Regions from separate parts of the Homo sapiens genome. Here region 2 is linked to region 1. Evidence: fine-mapped expression QTL. A gene starts in region 1. The other region holds a variant in brackets. All regions are shown on one strand. Distances are from middle to middle.

Evidence for each region. PIP is the estimated chance that this variant, and not a neighbour inherited with it, causes the effect.
Region 2: its variant is fine-mapped to the expression of MYLK4 in subcutaneous fat (TwinsUK, PIP 0.95).

The regions. Positions count from the first base shown.
Region 1 is chr6:2,744,397-2,756,537 of GRCh38, forward strand. MYLK4 (myosin light chain kinase family member 4) reads right to left here and starts at 6,526. Exons shown (of 13, transcript NM_001012418.5): 1 at 6,340-6,526; 2 at 4,740-5,010. The coding sequence starts at 4,898. RefSeq lists a silencer at 8,099-8,393.
Region 2 is chr6:2,679,543-2,691,683 of GRCh38, forward strand. It overlaps MYLK4 (myosin light chain kinase family member 4), which reads right to left. Exons shown (of 13, transcript NM_001012418.5): 4 at 9,309-9,414; 5 at 5,941-6,034; 6 at 5,754-5,863; 7 at 3,479-3,620; 8 at 679-749. Among named protein-coding and RNA genes, the nearest start is that of LINC01600, 51 kb to the left of the region's middle. The variant T/C (reference allele first, on the strand shown) is at 4,565.

The sequences.
Region 1 (12,141 bases):
GCCAGGGAGCTTTCTCCTGCCCTTACAGGGTGAGGAGCACAGGGATGGAGGTGGCGAAATGCAACTTGAAAAATCACAAAACCTCTGCCCTCAGCCTTGTTATTTTGAGATCTAAGTTATAGTCATTACGGATGGTGCTGATGGTACAATTTCACAGCAGATGGTCAGGAAATGCCACCTGGTGTTAAATCCACCAACTGCAATCAAAATAGGAAAATCCACACTTTACTCCAACCCACTGTCCCTCTGCACATCCTGTTAATAAATATTTTGCTTTGCTTGGTCTTGGGAGCATTTGTACCGGGCATTTAAACACTCCAGGGACAGTGGGGTCCCGAGTCTGCTGGGGCCATGCTTGTTTCTACCCCCACAGCTTTGGGATACCCCCTGGTTGGGATATGGAAGAACTTAAGCCAGGTTTTAAAAAGGAATTATTCCCTATGAAGGAAGGCTTTCAAACACAAATCAACAAGGGTTAGGATAAATTCAGAAATGATTTGCTTAGGGGTCTTCCAGGCGCGGATGTGGAACGGTGGGCTATGCTGACATATTTTTGTAGAGTGAGCATTCACAACCTGTGTCCTACTTTTATACTTGGGACCATGCCTTTTGGATGGAGGATGAGTAACTAGGGGTGAACAGGCAGGTGGGGAAAACCAACGGAGGAGGAGGAGAGCACAGACAACCCCGGGCCTCAGGAGCAGGGATGGGGGTGGTACACCGAGGAAAGCAGTGAGAAGCACGCAGGGCCGAATGGTTGGCTGAGAATATCACCAGGCACATTTGTGTTTCATTAAGCAAAGGGGTGTGGGGGTGTATATGAGACAGAGATCCTACTAAATATTCAAGTAAATCTGGGGGAAATACAACACGAGGGCTATTTACTATATAGATAACAGAGAACTGACAAAAGAAAAAAAACCCAGATTCAACTGTACAAAAATAATACTAATTATAGTTATGAAACCTGTTCATCATTTATAACTTAATGGTATGGACACAGTAGCTATCGAGCTCATCACTCATATGAGTCAGACCAATTTGGTCTTGTAAATTTTACTTGATTTCAACACCACACCGTGTACGTATGTTTAGATCTAGTTTATTATGGCATATGGTTATCTGCTGAAAACTTTTAAAATTTTACACAGTAGGTAGAATTTAGGTGATTTTGAACAGCCTTTGGAACATAATAGAATAAGAAAAGTCATTAGAAAACAGAATAAAAAGGAAAGTAGGAAAAATAGGCCACACACAGCAGCTCATGCCTGTAATTCCAGCACTCTGGGAGGCCAAGGTGGGAGGATCACTTCAGCACAGGAGTTCAAGACCAGTCTGAGCAACACATGGAGACCCCTGTCTCTACAAAAAAATACAGAAAGTAGCCATGGGTGGTGGTGCATGCCTAGTCCCAGCTACTTGGGAGGCTGAGGCAGGAGAATCACTTGAGCCAGGGAGGTCAAAGCTGCAGTGAGCTGAGATCACACCACTGCAATCCAGCCTGGGCGACAGAGTGAGAAGCTGTCTCAAAAAAAAAAAAAGAAACAAACAAACAAGAAAAATTAAAAGAACAAGGCCGGGCACGGTGGCTCACGCCTGTAATCTCAGCACTTTGGGAGGCCAAGGCAGGTGGATCATGAGGTCAGGAGTTTGAGACCAGCCTGACCAATGTGGTGAAACCCCGTCTCTACTAAAAATACAAAAAAAAATATAAAAAAAAATGAGTCAGGCGTGGTTGCGTGCGCCTGTAATCCCGGCTACTCAGGAGGCTAAGGCAGGAGAATTGCTTCAACCTGGGAGACGGAGGTTGCAGTGAGCTGAGATCGCACCACTGCACTCCAGCCTGGGTGACAGAGCAAGACTCCGTCTCAAAAAAAGAAAAAAAGAAAAAAAGAAAGAAAGAAAAATTAAAAGAACAAGAACTACTTAAGTAGAAGGAAGAAAAGAAGGCTATGAAGTGTTTCATAAACTCAGTAAAACATAGAGGAAAGAAGGAAGATGGCTAAAAATGAATTCAGTAGAAGAAAAATAAAAGAAATAGAAAAATCTGATTAAGAGCAGGAAAACAAAAAGAATCTGAGTTTTATCAAACTATTTTAACAAATATAAGTTGTTAAATCTATATAAAATTCTTCCCCTATTGGGACTGGAGAGTAGTTCCAGACTCTAAAGAAACTGCACTGCAAGCTTCCAGAACAAAGCTTTCATGTCACCAGAGTCTGAAATTCAGAGTACATTCTTTCCAGTGCACCACAGGGGATGTTTCTACTATGATTAGCCGTGCTAATCCCCTCAAAGAGAGAAGGGATGAGAGAGAAAGGGGAATAGGTGGAGAAAATCGACAAGCATGTTTTTATAGTCCCTGGAGAGAAAAGCGTGGCATTTTAAAGATTTACTGCTGCCCCAGCAGAAGATGAAGACGTGTTAATCTAGCTCTGTCTGCATACCTGAAGACATCTGAGCTGCTGGAATGTCCTTCTCCACCCACCCGCTGCCAAGCCTGCTGGCTGCCCTGGCACCCACCAACTAGGCAGGCAGGGGCTCCAGGCCATGGAAAGGAGAACTCTGTGCCTCTGACACATGCACCTATCCATTCTCCACGTGGACGGAGAGAGACAGGGAAATTTATTGCAGACATCTCTAGGCCCTTCTCCATTTACAAGTAAGAAATTGAATGGGACACATGGAGCTCCTAGTGATTCCTTCCCACCTTCCACAGGGTGTCAACTGCAGGACGGAAGCCAGGAGGCCCAAGTTACAGAAGGGATATGAGACTTACTATAAAGGACATTCTCTGATGGTTTCTAGGGGTTAAATAGCAGTCTCAATTTTTCCCTCAAAAACACCCTAAAAATATTTAACTTCCAAATCATCAACTTCTGGATGTAGTTGGCTGCACAAAAGTAACATCCCTACATATATTTATGTTCCAACTTAGCACTATCGCACTCTTTTTTTTTATCTTCAGAAACAGGGTCTTCCTCTGTTGCCCACGCTGGAGTGCAGTGGTGTGATCATAGCTCACTGCATCCTTGAACTCCCGGGCTCAAGCAATCCTCCTGCCTCAGCCTCCCAAGTAGCTGGGACTACAGATGTGTGCCACCATGCCCGCTATTTTATTTGTATTTTTTTATTTTTGTAGAAATAGACATCTCACCATGTCACCTGGGCTGGTCTCAAACTCCTGGCCTCCAGTGATTCTCTTGCCCCAGCCTCCCAAAGTGCTGGGATTACAGGTATGAGCCATGTGTCCTGCTTATCTCACTCTTTAGAGTGTTGCCCATTTATAAAAATTGTATCATAGATTTTGGAGAAAAACAGTACTTGAAAGATAATGAAATTCATATAAACTATTACAGTTAGTTGATGATTTCAAAGTTCTCCAAGAAGAATATTTTGTCTTCTCTGTCCTACCGAAATTAATAAACAGAAAAAATTATCCTGTTTGTACCACTGAAAACCCTAATGAGAAAGTCATGTCTCACTTAATTTTGCCTGTAGATATTTCTCCTTGGTCTATATTGAACTCATGGGGAAAGCAGAGGTCTCAAAAAAATGTTTCAATCTGATTCATTTATTCTCTCCAGCACATTTTGTCATTTCTTATTCACTTACAATAAAAAGCCTCCTAGACCTTTTATATACAATCTCTCTATTTCATTGTCTATTGCATTGTTAGAAACGCCCTTCCTACCTGAATAGTGTTTTTTAGAACAGTAGCTGGGCAAAGAAGGATGTTTTCCAAACCTGCCTGATAAGAATCACTTGCTCTGATTATCAAAAATAATGGTTCCCAGCCCTCAACCAGAATTCACTTAAATAGATCTGTGCATTCCAAAAACACTTTTGGTGCCTATTTGTTTCCGTTACTAGGAAAGCAACTGAGGAAACATGAACAAATAACACGAGGTTTCCCAACCTTAAGGAGCCTTGTCTAGAGAAAGGTGATCAACATGTTCAAAACCACCACATGTGCTGGAATGAAGGCACGGGCAAAATGCTTGATGCTCCCACCGGGCAAGGAGCCAACGGATGATGGGCAGGAACTGACTGGGCCAAGGCAGGGGAGGTAATTGCTGCTGCCGCTAACACATATTAAATGCTGACTCTAGTGACAGATACTAGGCGGAGTGCTTTACAGACGTGATCACACTTAATTTTCACAATTGCTATTATCTCACTAATTCAGATGTGGCAAGCCCTTGGTTAAATTAATATTTTTCCCAAGAACGAGCAGCTGGAATGGGGCTCAGAACTCTCGTTCTGCACAGAGGAGGGTACAAGCCCCACCGTCGTGCCATCAGCAAGTCTTTCTTGTCCCTTCTCTGGACTTCACTATCAACAGCTCTGCTGTCTACCGCGTGAGGAACTCAAGATCTGAAGGAAAAAGGAGAAACTTCTTTCTGCAGAACAGTGTGCCTCTCAGAGCCCTTTTCTGAATTTCAAGCCCAAATCCATCATGCTAAAGGATTCTTCTTCATTTCTGCAAGCTGGCTGTATAACTCCTAAGCCACTAACTAAAAGTGAAGTCGACTGCTGGCAGAAATGCAGTTTCAAAGGCCTCCTAATTATTTACCAAACACAATTGTATAGTCGACACACACAATTCTCACTGAAGCAAAGTGGAATGATGCCTATTCATAAACTTTCCTTAATTGTACTCACAAGCGGCTCCATGACATTAGAAAAGATAAGATAGAATGAATACTTTTTAGGAGACTAAATTAGAACATGATTACCTCATTATGTCCAGATCTTGAATCCTGGTCCCCAGAATTTTTTTCCAGAAAACACTTCACTTTCTCCACCTCTTCCCTGCACTGAAAAAAGGCCATTTTCTCCAGCTGGTTGCTGTTATAACACGTGTTGAATTCTTCCAGCCTCTTCACTTTTAACATCTTAGTAGTGAGTCCGATTAAGCTACTTTCTGGAGTGTGGTTTTCGTCTCCCTCTGTCTCCGATTTATAAATCAGGACACAATTATGACTCTTCAGTGCTTCTTTCTCTTGACTGCAAAGAAAGGAAACACAAAAAGTTCTCATCACGTATTCATGCATTTGACTTCTTGAGAAAATGACCAGTGAGAATTTGGAAGTCCCTTCTGTTTAAACTGGAGAGAGGATCCAAAATCAGGAAAAGAAATACTAACATTCATATTGAGTTTCCAACATTGGAACTTTAAAAGGAAAAAAAATTTTTTCACTTTAAAACTACAAAAGCAAACAGTAAGAAGCAATGTCAAGATTCACTGGTGATGAAATATGCTCCTTATTGCACAAAACAAGCCGTAGATCAAGTGGCCAGCTTGGATGTAAATTATAAAGTATCTTTGGGTTTAATTGGAACCGCAGGTTTTGCAGCCCCGTGGGAAGGGCTTATCACAGAAGGGGTCTCTCTGCTTCCCCTGGCCTCCCTCTGCAGAGGGATCGCTCCCGAATGAGTCCTTTTCCAGAACTCTTCTCTACCTATGCCTTAAAATGTGTGGTGTTTATTTGTGAAAAGAAATTTATTTCCTTACAGTCTTCTCACGTGGACAGCACTCCCAGATACCTTTCCTTGCATCTGCATTAACAGCTATGTACCGAGAAGTTCAGAGTCTTTTCACTCTCCTTAAAATACTTTCCTCGCAAATGAAGTAATGCAGCATACATAATTCGCTTTGATACTAGAGACATATACGCATGTCTATATGTACACATCACTTGATTGCATAGAGAGGCAGGGAGAGGGAGAGACATTTGAATTTGTGCTAGTTCCGCATGGCTGACAACTGAGGCCCCCTGGTGGAGATTTTCCGAAAAGCGCCTCTTCGAGCATTTTCTCCGCTTAAAAACCGTATTGTGATTCTCATCAGAAAACTTAATATTTTGTTTTGTCAGTTCCTATAGTAAAATGATACTCTTGAGTTCCAAAGTGTTTAAAATTCACTGCTCTAACAAATTATACTTATCCACATAAAGAGCTTACATTCAAACAAATAAAAATGCAAATATTAATACTATCAACCAGAGCTCTACAGATATATTACAGATCATTCTTAGCATTCTTTCAAATTGCCCTGAAAAAATTATTAAAATAAGGAAACAAATGCATGGCTATTTCTAAGGCAAACTACGACTAAAATACTATGGTTAATTGCAGATGAAACTCAAGTTGGATCAGGAAGCCACACAAAATTAATGTATTAAAACAAAAGCTTAGGATTAAGATACAATAATTTTGCAAAGAAATATTAAACATTAAGCTCTACCTGAAGTTTGGTACAATTTGTTATTGAAGGTAACTTAGAAAAAAGGGGAGGAGATTTGAGAGGTTATAACAATAAACAAAGATAATTACCATTGATAGGATCACATCGAAGAGCTTGAGCCACTCCAAGTCTAGAGCATACATTCCAGAAGATAAAGAGAAATTTTGCAGAATTCAAACTGACTATGAAAGTCTCTGGTAAAAGTTTTGACTCTCAGTCGTATAAATCTTCTGAAAAGACAAGTGTCCACTACGAGAGGAAGTATCTTCTCTCTCAAATGCCACTTTCAGCCCCTGTTTAAATTAATATGGCTCTTGATCTCACGTTGCTCAGCTGTTGCCTTCTTAGTCAGATGGGGAAGAATATTAATTTTAGACACCAGGCTTTTCAAGGCCAATGGCTCCATTTCAGAGGTCAGGTAAGGAGAGGATGAACCGGGAACACTGGATGAAATATCACCTTCACCTTTCCCTCGTATCATTGTGTCAATACTCTCGGATTTACAAAGCTAGATTTGTCCTCGGCAATCATCTGCCTGGACCTTCTGCCCCTTTCAGACTCAGGATTATTTAAGTGCTCATTAAATTTCCCCCAGTAGGGAAAATGCCAGGTGTGGCAACCCCACAGCCACCTCTGTTTGCCCATCTTACGCTTTGAGCATATCCAACTGCAATATAGAAGATCTTCTGAAAGCAGTTAGCAAGTTTGTTTTATTTTTCTCAGTTCTTAAAGATGTTTGCAAAGTCTCCAACCATTTCTAGCTCTAGGGAAAGGTCAAAGGCACAGGCATCCAGGAAACAGGAATAAATTTTTCATAAATTCTCCTTAAGCAACACTAGGACTTCATCCGTAGTTTTCTGCACAGACCAAGAAAGGGGAATTTCAACCCACCTGCCCGACTCTCACAGTAGTGCATCCCTAGATTCACTGAAGTGGCATAAAACTTTGATTGCCCAGAGGCTGGACTTTGCAGTCTTGAAAACCCTGCAATTTTTCAGGGCCTGGCCAATTGTCACCTCTTATTTGGAGCCTGTGTTAGCCCCTCTATGCCCCATTCTAACACCAGCCTCTGCTGCTCTTCTGCTTCTTTTAAAAAAAAAACCTTATTTTTAATTCAGATCGATGCATTCCATGTGAAATAAAAATACATATTTTTCCATTTTATGTAGTATTAATGAATTACAGCAAAATCTTTTTTAAAACACAAAACGCTTGTTATTTTTCAGATTGGAGAGCTTTGTTCTTCAGCAAAAGTAATGAAGTGGAACTATAAATTTGTGGAGATAAATTATCTGACAAAAGTATTATACAAAGACTAAGCTGGTTTGAGGTTACCAATTTTGTTAGTATAATTAAATTGTGTAGAAGTACTGATAAGGCAACAAATGCCCTGCCAGAGGCAAGATGTGTGTGGGCTGCTGCTGATCCAACCACATCCTCCACCCGGACCACCACCACGCAAAAGCAGACTTCCTATCTCGTTGGCTCCAGCAAACCAACCACAGGCTTGAGTGAGCCAGAGGCCAGGAGAATCTGCTCCTTAGCTTATTTTTTTGTAATAAACTTTTCCTTTTAGAGTAGTTTTACATCTACAGAAAAGGTGCAAAGGTAGTTCAGAGTTCCCCTTGCCCTGCACCCCGAATCCTCTGTTTTTAACATCTTACGTTGGTATGGTATACTTGTCACAATTAATGAACCATGGTGAACGTTATTATTAACTAAACTCAATACTTTATTGTTGCTGGGTTTTTTTTTTCCCCAAATGCCCCTTTTCTGTTCCAGAATCCCATGCAGGATTCCACAGTACATTTAGAATCAGTAGGATTTATGATAGATTGGGTATGGGGTATGAAAGAAAGATGGTAGACACCTTTGCATATTTTCTTCTGAGCACTTGAAAGACAGAGTGAACATTAACTGAGATGGAGACGGCTGTGGGAAGGGCAACTCTGGAGGGAAAGGTCAGGCATGAAGTCTTTGGCAAGTCCATTAAACGTTCAAGTTGAATAGGCTGTGGAGATAGAAACTGGAGTTCCGGGGAGGGGTGTAGGCTGGAGATAAGAATTTGGAAGGCATCCACATATAGACATTTCCATGCACAATATACATTCAATACATATTTGATTAATGACTAGATAGAATGATCTTTAATTGTGTCTACTTGCCCTAAAAAGCAAGTCAATTAAAATAATCCATGCTAAAAGTGACTGATTGTCTGGTTCTGCTGCATCACACTGTTCCCAGCTTCCGATGGCATACAGGACAAGCACACTGCTGGCACAACCCTTGACCACAAAAAAACAGGTTATACATGCATACTCATTCTGGTCTATCAGCCTAGCCTCAGGATCCTAAGTCCATACCCATAAAATGTTCTGCATGCTTAAAGATGCTCTTATACCCGGAAAAATTCATTAGTGAGGAATATGAGCAGGCCCAGGAACACTTTTCCAGTATTTCCATATTTTGGAGTTATACTTCTCTAAAAAATACCAACATCAGGAAAACAGCACCCTACAGAGCCATGGAAAAGAATCCCTTGATTTTTTTCAAGGGACATTTCCATTAGCTGAGTAAGAGACTGTGTTGTCAAAGGAGCCACATGAAGAAACATCGTCGACAGCTCTTGTCTACGGGTTGGCATTGAAACCCGGCTGGATTACACTAAGAGTTTTTGTTTCTACACAGCGTTCTGAATGTTTCCAGAACAAGACCTCTTGAATGTTTACACACAAAAGCGGAGCAACAGTACAAATACCCAAATGCAAATAAAAAGCTACTGCATCCCTGTTACCCACATTACAATAGAACTTCCTTACTTTCAAAAATCACCACTGAATACGACCCATAAAAACGAAGATTGATAAATTGCACTTCTTCAAAATTCAAAACGTTTGCCTTTGAAAAAACACTATTAGGAAAATGAAAAGACACTATTATGAAAATGAAAAGACCAGCTACAGATGTATAGAAAATACTGTGAAGTCACATATTTGACAAAGGACTGCATCTAGCATATACAACTTAATAATATATGACAAAACATTCCAGTTTTTTAAATGGACAAAAGATTAAAACAGACCTCACCAAAGAAGATATAAAAATGGTTAATAAGCACATGAAAAAAAATGCTCAAAATCAGTCATCAGGGAGATGCAAATTAAAACCACAAGGAAACATCATTTCACACCCACTAGGAGAGCTGTAATAATAATGAAAAAAATAAAAGATAGGTTGGGTGTGGTGGCTCACACCTGTAATCCTAGCACTTTGGGAGGCCAAGACAGGAGGATCACTTCAGTCCAGGAGTTTGAGACCAGCCTGGGCAACATAGCAAGACCCCATCTCTACCAAAAAAAAAAAAAAAAAGACAGAGAAAAGCAAGTGTTGACAAGGATGTGGAAAAACTGGAACCCTCACCAAATATGTTGATGGGAATATAAAATGATACAGGTGTCTTATAAAAGAGGTTGGCAATTTCTTAAAAAGTTATTTCCCATATGACCTAGAAATTCTTCTCCTAGGTATCTACCCAAGAGAAATGAAAACATATGAACACAGAAACCATGGCACATGAATGTTCACAGCAGCATTATTCACAATAGCCAAAAACTGAAAACAACCAAAATGTCCATCGGATGATTTGGAGACTGGGAAAAGATAATGTGGTATACACATACAAATGGAATACTACGTAATTAAAAGGAATGAAATACTGGTATCTACTACAATATGGATGAGCGAAAACACTGTGCTAATTGAAAAAAAAAAGCCAGAAACATAGAGCACAGATTGTATGATTCCATTTGTATAAAATGCTCAGAAAAGACAAATCTATAGACGTAGAAAGCAGACTGGTGGTTGCCGGGGGCTGGGTGCAGGAATGGGGGTTAATTGTAAACAGAATCTTACCCGATGATGTGTGGTAGTGATGACTGTACAACTCATTCAGTTTCTTAAAACAATGCAGAATTGTGCACTTGAGATGGGTGAATTTTATAATATGTAAATTATACTTCAATAGAGTCATTAAGAAAAAGAAAACCCAATAATATGATTAACAAAAAGTAGCTTGTTAAAAGGAGAGGAAAAAACTGAACACTTTGTGGTCATCTGTCCCCAGTGACCAAGGCTGGGATCCAGGGAAACATAAATTATATTCCACACTTGCCAGGTCACCTAGGGCCAAAGAAAAGGAATGGTGAGCAGGAGACAGTTAAGAGTCTCACGCTTTTCTTCTCCTGGCATGAATATCATGCAATATAAGATTTTGTAATTAATAGAAAAATTAATAGTAATTTTAAAAGTAATTTCTATCTTTTATTTTCTGCTTGGAGATAGGATACTTTGAGCAAGAAAGATAATGATGTTATGGAATATCCAGATTTCTTTACAGGAAATTTTGATATTAGACCACTAAAACTTCTAAGTGACAGCAATTAGCTAAGTATTACGAAATACAAAAATGAAAATAAAACAGGTTTTAAAAATTAGATAAAAATATGGATTGGATCATTTAAAAATTAATATTTTTCAGAAATATTACATAAAGTTTCAGTTTATTACCTCTACAGTGGCTACACAAATTGTTCCTTTAATTATATCCCTTAAACTTTCTAAGGGATATTTGCAAGCATAGTACAATGAATACCTATACATCCTTCACCCATATTCACCAAATGTTAGCATTTTCCATGTTTGCCCTCTCTCTCTCTTTTGCGAGTAAGATGCATATCTCATGAAACTTTACCCCTATATGAATTGGTGTATGTTTCTTGAGAAAAAAGACACTTTCTCACATAACAGAATCTACTCAAAAATTACATAGCGCATTTAATCACCATGTCTTCTTAGTCTCCTTTTATCTATTTAGGAAATGGTCATTCCGTTTATTTTATTTTATTTTACTTTTTGAGACAAGGTCTCACTCTGTTGCTTGTGCTGGAGTGCAGTGGCGTGAACACAGCTCACTGCAGCCTTGACCTTGGCTCAAGTGATCCTCCTGCCTCAGCCCTCCAAGTAGCTGGGACTATTGGCAGGCACCACCACACCAGGCTAAGTTTTGTATTTTTTGTGGAGATGAGGCTTCCTAGTCTCTCTCTCTTTTTTGTAATCCTTCATGACATTGATATTTTTGAAGTCTTTGGACAAATTGTTTCATAAAATGTCTCTCAATTCTAATTTCCTGATTGTGTCTTCATGCTTGGAACCAGGTTATACCTGAGCATGAAAACTACAGAAGTGACACTGTATCTTTTTCAGAACATCACAAAAGGTGGCACATGATGTCGGTTTGTGCCATTATTCGTGATATTAAATTTGGTGATCTGATTAAGGTTGTGTCCACCAGACTTCTCAAATGTAAAACTAACCCTTTTATTTTTGTGATTGATAAATAACTTGTGGGAATTTATAGGTATCATGTTCCCCAACAATGCATCACCCAACGTTTCTCAGTATCTATTCTTGAGAATCAATGATTACCACAGAGACTGTGAAATGATTTTCTAATTCTGCCATTTCTTCTATACTTATTAATTGGTATTCTTTTATAAAGAAGAGCTTTCCATCCCCATCCTGAACCTCACTCTCTTTAGTATCAGGATGAGCTTATGGCCTTTTAAAAATGGACATACACTCCCTATATTCTTTATTTTGAAGCTCAAATTGTCCCATATTGGCCAACGGAAGTGCCTTCAAGCTGGCTCCTATGTACTTTTGATATGTCATTATTATTTTTTGAGTACTTCCTTACTTTCAGTACTGTTTTCACCCTGTTTCTGAATTCTGCCATTTCTTCAAGGAGCCCTCCTTCCTCTTAGGCAGAATGGTATTTAGAAATCAAGCCCTGGGCACCAGGAGTGTTTTTTGCTACGGGGGTGTCACTGTAG
Region 2 (12,141 bases), 65 kb before region 1:
AAACAATCAAGCAAGAGGCTCAAAAACTTGTAAAGAGGCCCCAGAAAATTTAAAAGTCAAAATTCATACTAGGAAACCTTAAAAGCTGAACCAGTTGTTGGAGAAGCTGCTGTGAATAATGAGAACATCTGAATTACAGAAGATGACAAGAGGAAAACTGATATAGTCATTGACATGGGGATGATGTGAATAAGCCTGTAAAATGAATAAACACAGTACTGCAATAATTTACAACATCCATTTTATATGTGTCGTTAATGTGCTGAATTGTTAATGTGTCCACGTAAACTCTTTGTTCCCTGAAGAATCTTTTATGTGCCAGAACCCTTTGCAAACTTGCTTACGTTGTTAATATTTTTAAAGTAAATCTTCTCTGTACAGATGGATCAAATATGAAAGAGGGGACAAACTCTTGCAAATGCTAAATTAATGGCTTCTAATTTAATAAACTTCACTGTATTAGGTTTTAATTTTTTATACTTTTTACTGCATGCATTATAGAAACTTCTAAACACTCAAGTCTCAAATTTAGCAAGTTAAGGCCAAACATAATTTTTGTTAAATTAATTATAAATGAGATCATGAAACCAAAGAGCAGATCAGATATATGTTTGCAAAGGAAGGGCAACCATCATGTCCCCCAGCTCCATTCGTACACCTATGTCCAAATAGACATACCTTCTGGCCAATCCAAAATCAATAATTTTTATTTGCTTAGCATCCCGATTCACACACAGGATATTCTCAGGCTGCCAGGAGAAAGAGACACATTAGCAATGAAAACAACCATCATTCACTCAAATTGTCCTTGAACCACAACTAAAAATACAACGATGCTCAGAAAAAACATATCAGGCCTTTCACTTCGGGGCGGGCTTGTCCGTGTGGGTACTTTCTCCTTTAATTATGTGGTGGATGAGGTTGCGGGTATCCTGCCAACCCTGCATTATCCAGCCTGTCCTCTGCACGGCTTCACAGTTCACCATAATGCCTGAGTTCAGGCAGAGGCCTTGAGGGGAGCAAGAAAAGGAGGTTGCTTCAGTCCTTCCCAAATGTGCTGTGGAGGCCCGCTCAGGCCTGACATCTGCCCCTCTAAATTATTCAGTATGAATTTCCCCTTCTTGGAGAAATATTTTTCCCAAGATTGATGAGTTCCAAGGGAATTGACCTGCTCCATTCAAACAGCCACACTGAACATGCACTGTCACGTGAACGTTCCGGCCTCCAGAGCTTCCCTTTGCTCAACGCCTATGGGAAAGTCGCACGGCAGAGGAGGGCTTTTCTCTCCAGTCGTTCTTCAGTCTCAGCAGTTCCAAGGTTTTGCTGAGTTTGGTCTCAATGCCTAAAACCCCTGACTAAGTGTTCCCTTGGAGCTAGGCCCTGGTAAGACCTTAGCCTGCTGACCTGACAGTCTTGGGGTGCAGGGGGAGAAAATGGGGTGTAGTGCAGCCACTCAGTGTTCACAGAATGCCTTACAAGTGCACCTAATGTTTACTGGGGTAGAAAAACAGAGGTCTTGGGAAAGTAAGAGATTTGATTTAAAGTCAAGGCCATTTATAAAAGAGAAAAAAAGTTTTCAGAGTTAAGAACCCTCAGTCCCAATTCTTTACAAGCTGGAGGGCACCATCCCAGAAGCCAAATGCCCAGGATCCCGTTCCTCAGCCTTTAGTGGGATCAGGCTCCCCTCCCCAACCTGTCCAGGTGGAGAAGAGGTTCCAATGAGATCAGAAATTCAGAAACACATTATGAAATGACATAATGTCTCCTTATCAATATTCAATAGTACATTTGGTTGGGCAGAATATCTTTGGAAGCCCTTTTCTAAACTATCTCTAAAACAGATGTTTGTGAGTAAAAGTCATTATAGAGAAGGGGGTGCTACGTGAACCATTTGGTTTCATGCTTAAATCACTGATGGATCATGTATAAAGCTGTCCAATTGTGAAGGAGTACTGTGGCATCAAAAAGTTTGCAGGATATAGAGAAACCGTTTTGAGGGCATTTCAATAAGTTAGCCTTTTTATGACGATAAAATTAAACAATGTTCATTGGATAAATTTTGCAAAACAGAAAAATATAAAACAGACTGTTTGTAAGTCACCTATAATCTCCCCCCACATACTGACAATCACTCAATATTTTTGGCCCTTTTCCTTCCAAGGAGCTTTCAGAAAAGCAGCTCCTTAAGGACCCATCCAGCTGTCACCTTTATGATGATCTCTGCATCCAAGCCATAACTAAAACTGCCCACTGCAGGTCCTCAATCAATGTTATGAAGCCTCATATGGAGTCATTTGACTTACAATAGGTTTGCTCCTAGTTCCAGTTGCCAATCAAATCCCTGTAGGGATATCTGCAGAATATCTACATTCAATGAAAATGCTCCATGAAAGCATGCATTATCAAACTCAGTTCATAGTGAGGGTTTTGCTAATGATTTTTAGCCTCTGACTTTGTCATTTTATAAACCACTTCCTCCTGCTCTCCTCCTGCTCAAAAGTGAATGGGAAAGGCAAGGCACATAAATCAAGACAGTGAGGGAAGCCAAGTTATAGGAAGAGAGGCCCATGGAAACCTATTTCAGGAGGCTAAATTTATTTAGCTATGCAATCCCTAGTGAATGCAATAGATGGGATGTTATATAGATTGTATATTTTATGTTACTGTCACGCTGTGCAAACAGGGAAATGAGAAAATGACCAAGCCACACAAGACGTACTTTATGATACTTAGTCCCAATATGGGACTTGATCAGGGTTGTTGGGCCTAGGTCTTTTATTGGTTGTAACTAAGACTACATACAGTCCGATTCTAGGAACTTCATAATGAGACATGAGAGAGGTAAAGAGGGAAGGGGCAATCAATAGGAGGAGAAAGAAAGGCGGCTTGGCTTCTGTGTGCTTTCCACCATTGGCAGTGGGGTGCCCACCCCACCCTCTCTTCTCCTTAGCACTTTGGCCCCATCCTTCCGACTGTCCTCTGCTGCATTCTCCATAGGATTCTATTCCACAGGGCAGCAAACCCACAGAAAAACAAGTCCCAAAGTCTGGAGCTTCCTGAGTGACTCGAGGAGCTGCCGGCGATTCTTGGAGACCTGGAAAGGTTGACTACTACTTAGGGAATTCTGAGTTAGCTAAAATCCTCTCACCTACTTGTCCTGATGAGAGGGCTACCACGTGGATACCGCTGTGGTGGTGGTGACTGTTTTCATTCTAAACTTTTAGGGAAACCATTGCCATATAGATTTCCTTAACGCAGGCAAGTTACAAGAATCTGAATATCACCCCTGAAGATGGAACATGCAAATATTAGGGAGTGACAGAAGCTGAGAATAAGGAGATGAGGGTAACAATTCAGATGTTTATTCATTTCTGAAATGACTGTACCAATTTCCCCAGCTGGCATATAATAGCAGACAGGGCCCACTGTGCAAGAGCTGGGAAGGGCTTACGTCTCACAGGATACAAAACACCCTTACCTTCAGGTCCAAGTGGAGAATGTACATCTGATGCATGTGCCTTATCCCCTCACATATCTGCTTCATGAACAGGATGGTATCAAGCTCCGTCAAATTGTAGCTCTCATCGATGATGCGGTCAAACAGCTCCCCACCATCCACACTGCAGAGGGAAGAGGACTGAAACCCTCAGTCCCGATTTCCTTACCACCATGTGCTTTTCTCGTAGTGACTTGTCGTGCAAGTTCTGCTACCTCTTCTGAAAGGTGTATGTGCAGTTATTTCTCTGCCTTCTTTACTATCTTACTTAGATGATTCTTATCTTGAAGGCCTGTATTTTATATACCTTTAATCTCACAAATGGAAATCCTCAAGCCAACTCCCCACCTTTTTGTGTGTGTGTGTGTGTGTGTGTGTGTGTGTGTGTGTGTGTGTTTTGAGATGGAGTCTCGCTGTGTCGCTCAGGCTAGAGGGCAGTGGCAGGATCTTGGCTCACTGCAATCTCCGCCTCCCAGATTCAAGCGATTCTCATGCCTCAGTCTCCCAAGTAGCTGGGATTAGAGGCATGCGCCACCATGCCCGGCTAATTTTTGTATTTTTAGTAGAGATGGGTTTCACTGTGTTGGCCAGGCTGGTTTCGAACTCCTGACCCCAAGTGATCCACCAGCCTCGGCCTCCCAAAGTGCTGGGATTACAGGTGGGAGCCACCACACCGGCCCTCAAAGCCCCTTTATTCAGTGTCTTCAGCTCTGGGGTGAGCCCACATGTATCATGTTCTAAAGATGTTGAAGAGAAAGAGGATCCTAAGAACTCCAGGAGGGGAACTCCAAGCCCTGACTGAAGGTAGTCAGGGTCTCAGCCCTCTAAGTCTCCAGACTGAATTCAGGGATAAAGTGCTTCTCTGTGGCTGGTGCTAGACACAGTAATTTCCCTTATCCTTGGGGACACCTTCCAAGACCCTCCGTGGATGCCTGAAACTGTGGATAGTACTGAACCTGTATATACTATGTTATTTCCTATAGACATATAACTCCGATACAGTTTAATTCATAAATTAAGCACAGTAAGGGATTAACAACAATAACTACGAGTAAAATAGAACAATTA[T/C]AACAACACGCCAGCTGCACTACTCTTGTGTCTTGGGGCCATTATGAAGTCAAATGATAGTTCCGTGAACACAAGCATGGCGATGCCTCCACAGTCAATCTGATGACCCGGTCGGCTACTAAGTGACTAACCGCAGGGAGTGGTGGAGACGCTGGACAAAGGGATGATTCACGTCCTGGGTGGGACCGAGCGGGACGGTGGGAGATTTCATCAGGCTACTCAGAACAGTGTGCAATTTAAAACCTGTTGATTGTTTACTTCTGGAATTTTCCACTTAATATTTTGGGGCCTTGGGTAACTGAGACCATGGAAAGTGAAAGTGTGGGCAAGGGAGGACCACGATACTATACTTTTTATTCAAAATGCCTTATTGAGGAATGAAAAACAAAACGGAATCACAATATCGATTCAGTGTTGGAATTGCAGTCGGCCCTCCCTATTCGTGGGTTCTGTTTCCACAGGTTCAAACAATCGTAAATCAAAATGTTTGACCAAAAAACAATAAAAATTGACAATACAACAACAAAAATAATACAAATTTTTAAAAAATACAGTATAACAACTGTATATGTGGCATTTACAGTTTATCAGGTATTGTAAGTAGTCTAGAGATTATTTAAAGTACTCGGGGGGATAGGCATAAGTTATATGCAAAAGACTATGCCATTTTATGTCAGGAACTTGAGTGTCCTCCGGTTTTGGTATTTGCAGGGATCCTGGGACCAATCCCTCTCCGATACCAAGTAATGACTGTACTCGGTTTCTAACTAACCAGTCCTTATGTTTTTATAAAGGTGAGTTTAAATGGAAGCTTCTTAGCCCTAATCATCACCAGTTGTTGACATGACCTTTGTATTAGTGAATATGTTGAAAGTAAGATGTAGCTCAAAAACCACTTTCCTCCAGGTTGCCCTGGCTAATATTTAAGCTTGATTTTTGACAAACAGCGTAGATACAAAGCTAGATCTACTTGGTCCCACTACTTCTTAGCAATAAAATCCCATATGGAGATTTGTAACCCCAAGTGTTTCCCTTCTAGAACTGATGTGATTGTGTGATCCGCGCGAATCAGAGTCTGCGGGGGCGAGCTTGGTTCTGGTCCCGCTACAGCAGGACGGAGCTACTGAGGCACGGTCACGGTCATGAGTGCCCTTGGGGAGGTCAGGGAGGGGGCGGAGGGGATACGTACTACTCCATGACCAGGACAATGTCGTTCTTAGACTCGAAGGCATCGTACAGCTGGATGAGGTTCGCGTGGTCCAGCTGGTTCATGACGCTGATCTCGTTCTTCACCTCCTCCTGAGAAGCAGGAAACAGTGCATTAGTGTGGTCAAGATGGGGCGGGGAGGGAGGGGACCACCTCCCACAGGCTGTACCTTGTCCTTCATGCCTCTGGTCTTGATGATTTTGGCTGCCAGCTTCAGACCTGTGGCCGTCTCCTCACACTTGTGAACCTGGCCGAAACGCCCTCTGCCAAAAAGAGGAAGCGGCGTAGCATGAGGCCCTGTGGTCAGCTGCCGAGTGGACAGCGCACAGTGGCCCCAGTATTTCTCCTGCTGAGTCTGGATGAGCAGCCCTCTGAGGAGTTCTTTCAGTAAACTTCTAGAGCAGTATTTGTCAACATGTGGTGTGTGGATCACTTGCATCAGAATCACCTGGGAGCTGTTAAGAAAGCAGGTCTCGGCCGGGCACGGTGGCTCACACCTGTAATCCCAGCACTTTGGGAGGCCGAGGCGGGAGGATCACGAGGTCAGGACCAGTCTGGCCAACATAGTGAAACCCCATCTCTGCTAAAAATACAAATACAAAAAATTAGCCAGATGTGATGGCATGTGTCTGTAGTCCCAGCTACTCGGGAGGCTGAGGCAGGAGAACGGCGTGAACCCAGGAGGCGGAGGTTGCAGTGGGCCGAGATCGCGCCATTGCACTCCAGCCTGGGCGACAGTGCAAGAATCCATCTCAAAAAAAAAAAAAAAGAAGAAAGAAAGAAAGAAAAAAAAAAAGAATCCAGGATTCTGGGCCCTACCCCAGACCTCCTGAGGCAGGAATCCAGGGGTAGGCCCCAGAATCTGCATTTCAGCACATTTCTTGGGTGATTCATATGCACCCTCACATTTGAGAACCACCTTTACAGACAATGCAGAATCCTTCTGAATACATATGAATGTTATGAGCTGGGCTTTGCCAGCATATGAACAAGAGAGCCCACCTTCAGATATATAAAATTATTTTTGGAAACTGCATATGTAACAATACTGCATATACATCCATATAGTCAAGACTGCATATTGCCAAGTCACCTATGAGCTTGAATATAAACACAAGACAGCTTCTTACCTACGTAATCACATACAGATGTGCACACTTGTGAGCAGTTTTAAATTTAATTTGCTTAGTTTGATTTCTTATTTAGTAAAATAAGCTAGAACACGTGTCCCTGCTCTGCAATGGTGGATGTCACAGTAGGGAGTGAGGAACAGCTTCCCTAGCAACACAGTGAACCCGAGGCAAGCCCTATGACAAGGCAGAGGACTTCAGCGATGAAAGTCATGGCAACGCTGGGCAGATGCAGGGGCACTGGCGGCCGCTGCATCCTACTGTGGGGCTGCACACCCAGCACAGAGGCAGATGAATCTTGGAGAATGACACAGGATTACCATAAACGTAGCCACGGCGTGACTTCAATTCCAACCTCTGCTCCAGATAGAGTCTCTATGGGAACACACGGACACAGCCCCAGCCACCTCTTAATTGGTTGTTATGGAAATGGTTTCTCCCCTTCACTAGCAATGGCCGCAGAACCTCCTGAGCCAGCAGTGGTGCCCATCACTGTCTGACTTCCCGGCTCCCTCAACCTTCTGACTCTTTCCCCTGATTTATTGTGCAAGGGCCCTGAAGGTTGAGGCCAACTCCCAGGATTCATGCTGGTTCAACACAGTGATAACCTTATGCTCATTGAACATGGCAAGCAGGGATGATGGATACCCTCAAGGCCACAGGGCAGGAGACGAACTCCCAGGAAAATTCAGGGGCCTGCCCCTGTGGGCAGGGTTTTTGGGATCCAGTGGTCCTTGGCATGTTGCAATATTTCTGCCAAAAGTAAAAGATAAGTTGCTACATCTTGAACCTGCTACCACTTAAAAGGAGGTGCAGCACTTGGTGATGTCTGCATTTTGAAGGCATCCACGCACATTTGATCATGCTCCTCTCACTTATTTGCTGAGTGAATTACGGCTGCCAATTTTGGTGAAGCCCATAACGAGAGCTGACGGGCAGCTGGTCTAGACTGCAGTACCAAAGAGAAGATCCCATGGTGCCCAAACAGACAGAAAGGAAGTTTCAAAGGAGCAATTGACAAACCTTGACCAGAAAAACAGCACAAACCCTGGGAATTCTTTCAAAGCTTCTTCTGCAAATAACTATTCTCGGTTAGAGAAATAGTTGCTGGCTTGCCACTGATGTCCCTGAAGGCCCAAATACCTCAGGCTTCCATGGAGCCAGTTCATGCTGTGGAATTCCTGTTTCTCCCTCAGCCCATCCCCGCAGTCTCATGGGGCATTCTATGAGATCAGCCAGATCAGGAAGGGAAAGTCCAGGTGGTTCCATTCGGCACAGGGCAAAGAAATACGGAGTGGGAAGAGGAGGAAGGGACTTCACAAATATCAAGGACTCCCTGAAGACCACTTGCAGACGCCTGAACTGCAGTAGCGATGCGTGCTTTCCTTGTGTTGGTGAGTACATTTTGTATGTATACGTGCAGATGTTCTGCTTTCCTCTTCCTATTTTACACAGACATGCCGATGGCAGCAAACGTTATAATTTAGACTTTGAGTTACAAGATATCACGGGGGGTTGTGAAAGAAGTAAACGAAGAAGAACACCCTCTCCCCACCCCCAGCAGGAAGCGGGTCCCTGATGGACTTTAATTTTCCTTCTGGTTTTTTTTCTTTTCTTTTTTTTTCTTTTTTTTTGAGACAGAGTCTTACTCTGTCACCAGGCTGGAGTGTAGGGGCCTGATCTCGGCTCACTGCAGCCTCCAACTCCCTGGTTCAAGCGATTCTCCTGCCTCAGCCTCCCGAGTAGCTGGGATTACAGGCATGCGCCACCACGCCCAGCTAATTTTTGTATTTTTAATAGAGACGGGGTTTCACCATGTTGGCCAGGATGGTCTCGAACTCCTGACCTCAAGTGATCTGCCCGCCTCAGTTTCCCAAAGTGCTGGGATTACAGGCGTGAGCCACCGCGCAAGGCCTTTAATCTTCCTTCTTTAGGGAGAATGTGTGTTTAAATGTCCCTAAAATAAGTTATTTGCTGAGCAAAGTAATCAATTGAAATGAATAATAGTAATTAATATAGTAACAACATAAATGAAAAACCAGCAGCAATGACAGAAAGACCTAATACAGGCCACAAAAACTACACGCTGTTGACTCATTTCTATCTTCTGTCTCCTGGAGGCTGCACTATGGCTTTGGACAGCTGGTCAACCTTCTGGTGACTCACAATGGGTTTTTCTTTCTTTTAGACATTACAACATGGGAAGTAAAGCAGATAATAAATGTGGAGTTTAGTCACCACATTAACCTTTCTGGCATCAGTGACAATTTTCAGAAATGGTTACTGTTTCTTAAAATGTTTGTTTCTAATGTTTCTAGTTCTCAGGTCAAGACAGGCAGACATTTACGAAGTCATTTGCACGCTCTCTTCTTTTGTTGAGAGAATATTAACATTCAGCCTTACTCACCCTCCTAGGATTTCTGTCTTGCTCACAGTATAGAAGCTGTTGACCGCTCCTTGCTTGGCTGTCACAATACGATGATCAAATGGGGCCGGAGGAGCCGGGATGTCAACTAGAAGGTGAGAGAAACAGAAGGGCAATCTGTCAAGAAGTCTGACCTCGTTAAGGCAGCAAGCCTGGGCCTCATAGTAAAAATGTGCTCATTTAATAATAAAATACAAGGAGCCATCTGTTTGATTCCTAATGATCCAGGGATATAGATTTCCACTTGAGATTATGAGCTGTGACTCATAAAGGTGATCCTGACACCTCTGAGAAAGAGTGTCAGGGCGGCTCAATGGTTGTCCATACCATCTTCAGGATCACTTTTAGAAATGTCAAAATAGTTGAAAATTTCCAACCCAACACAGTCCAAACAGGTAATACTTCCAAGCCTGAGACCATTCAAATTCAAACATGAGAAATTGTTTGATTCATTTTTAAAATGCATTACTGATATAATCCATTATTTTAATTATATCAGAGACAAAAAAGAAAAATGAAACATTTCTTCATGTTGTTGAAATGCTTGATATTATATATTACTTTCCAAAATGTCTTAGACTTTATTTAAGACACATTTAAGGCACAAAGATGAATTTTTCCTGGCTGGCTGGAAATAAAACACCCAATAAAACCAGGTAAGTGTGTATTCAACAGAGATCAAATTTCTCCCACTTTCTCCCCTTCCACCTTAAGTGTTTAAACGCTCGTCCACATCAGCACCAGCTCTAACATACAGAATTACTCAGGGATATTCCTCCCAGTATTCTTTCACCTTTCCATGACTACTGCTGTTGAAATTGGCTTGCCATGAACCTGCTCATTCTTCGTTAATTCATTTACTAAGCAGCGACTGCATGCATACAATAAGAATACAAAGGGAGGTAAGTAAATAACAGCTTTGCTTTCAAAACACTCTACATTTATTTGACATATGTTTCTTGAGCATTTACCTTGTTCCAGGCACTCTGCCAAGTGTTAATATTTTTAAAAATTCAGATAATATAAATCTCTGGGAATCTGATTTGATATGGACATCACCTCTCAGAGCCTAAATATGCTGAAAACTGAAGTCACCAGAGAAGCATCTTGATAACATTCACTGTTTCAGATTAATAGAGGGAGTTAAATACACAAGCGGCATCGAAATGGCATTATATCTCCTGCAGGCTGTTAGACTAAATGAAATTTAGTCTGTAATGCTTGCTGGAGAAGGTTAAAAAGCCTTAAAAGGCCCATACAAAAGCCATTTCCTACCCAGTGGGGTCAGGCCGTCTTGCCCTCGGGAGGTCTTCATCCCAGCAGACTCCCTGAGTCGGCCCCGGGAGCTCCTCAGCTTGCCTGGCTGCCTGTGTCTTCTGACACGTGTGTTCTTCCCCTGTGCCGACTATGTCTACTCTGCGCCTTTTGCTGTCCTCGTTGACGAGGCGCTCCTCTGCCACTCCACGCTTACTGCTGCCCGGGCACTCTGTCTGGTCAGCATTCCAGAAAATGGATCCTACTGCTGAACTTCCAGGGATTCGTGGGGGTAGAAATGGCCCTTATGCTGCTGACACACCTGGGAAGTAAAGTCCAGTTGCAGCTCTCAAAGTTTCAAGAAGAAAACATTCAGATGGTGGAAATTCTTTAAGAAGGTTTTCTTAAAACAGTGTTTTGGTGACGAGGACGTGAGCTCCGTGATAGAGGTGACCATTTCGGGGCTTGGGGAGGAAATGGAGCAGCACGCTCCCCATCAAGTCTATGGGTGTAGAGAACCAGGGTCCCAGGGAATCTCACCACTGGCCAAATCGTGACCCCAAGTTATTCCACTGGAACTTAACAAAAGCCGTCATTTTATGAATACCTAACTAATTTGATCTTCATTTTTTCACTTCCTTTCCTTAGAGAGAAATTATTAAATTATAGCATGATAAAAGAAGCAATAATCTCTCTGAATCTTTTTTTTTTTTTTTTTTTTTTTTGAGACCGAGTCTCGCTCTGTCGCCCAGGCTGGAGTGCAGTGGCGCGATCTCGGCTCACTGCAAGCTCCGCCTCCCGGATTCAAGCAATTCTCTGCCTCAGCCTCCCGAGTAGCTGGGACTACAGGCGCCCGCCACCACGCCCGGCTAATTTTTTTGTATTTTTAAATAGAGACGGGGTTTCACCGTGTTAGCCAGGATGGTCTCCATCTCCTGACCTCGTGATCCAACTGCCTCAGCCTCCTAAAGTGCTGGGATTACAGGCGTGAGCCACCGCACCCAGCCAATCTCTCTGAATCTTAACGGCAGTGAGACTAAACCTTTATCAGTGGAAGAATTGACCTAATTTCCATTTCTCAGCAGCTCTCGACCTTACTGAACACATCTGGCAGTGTTGAAGTTTCTTTCTTAGCAATCATTAATATTTATGCTTAATTCTTGGAAAATTAAATTTCTCCAAGATGAGGTTTCAGATACATTATTAAAAAATGAACTAAGAATTATGTTTTAAATCCCTAAAAAAGACCACACAAGTGGTTTGATACTTTTGGTTCCAAATAGATACTGTGATATGTGATTACTCATAACTTAGAGTAGTTCATTTTAATTGGCTATAATATTACCTGAATCTATAAGTGAAACTGTGTAGTTGAGAAAGAAAGTCATTCAATAATCTATGTCTTACTTCATCCTCACAATATTTGGGAAAATAGGCAATTTATTATTTATAATGGAGTAGGTAAGCTTTTTCAGATTTAGGTTTTTAACTTACGGATAAATCTAGTCATTATTTAATTCTTGTCCTTAGGAAGGATATGTTCTGTATTGCTAAAAATGAA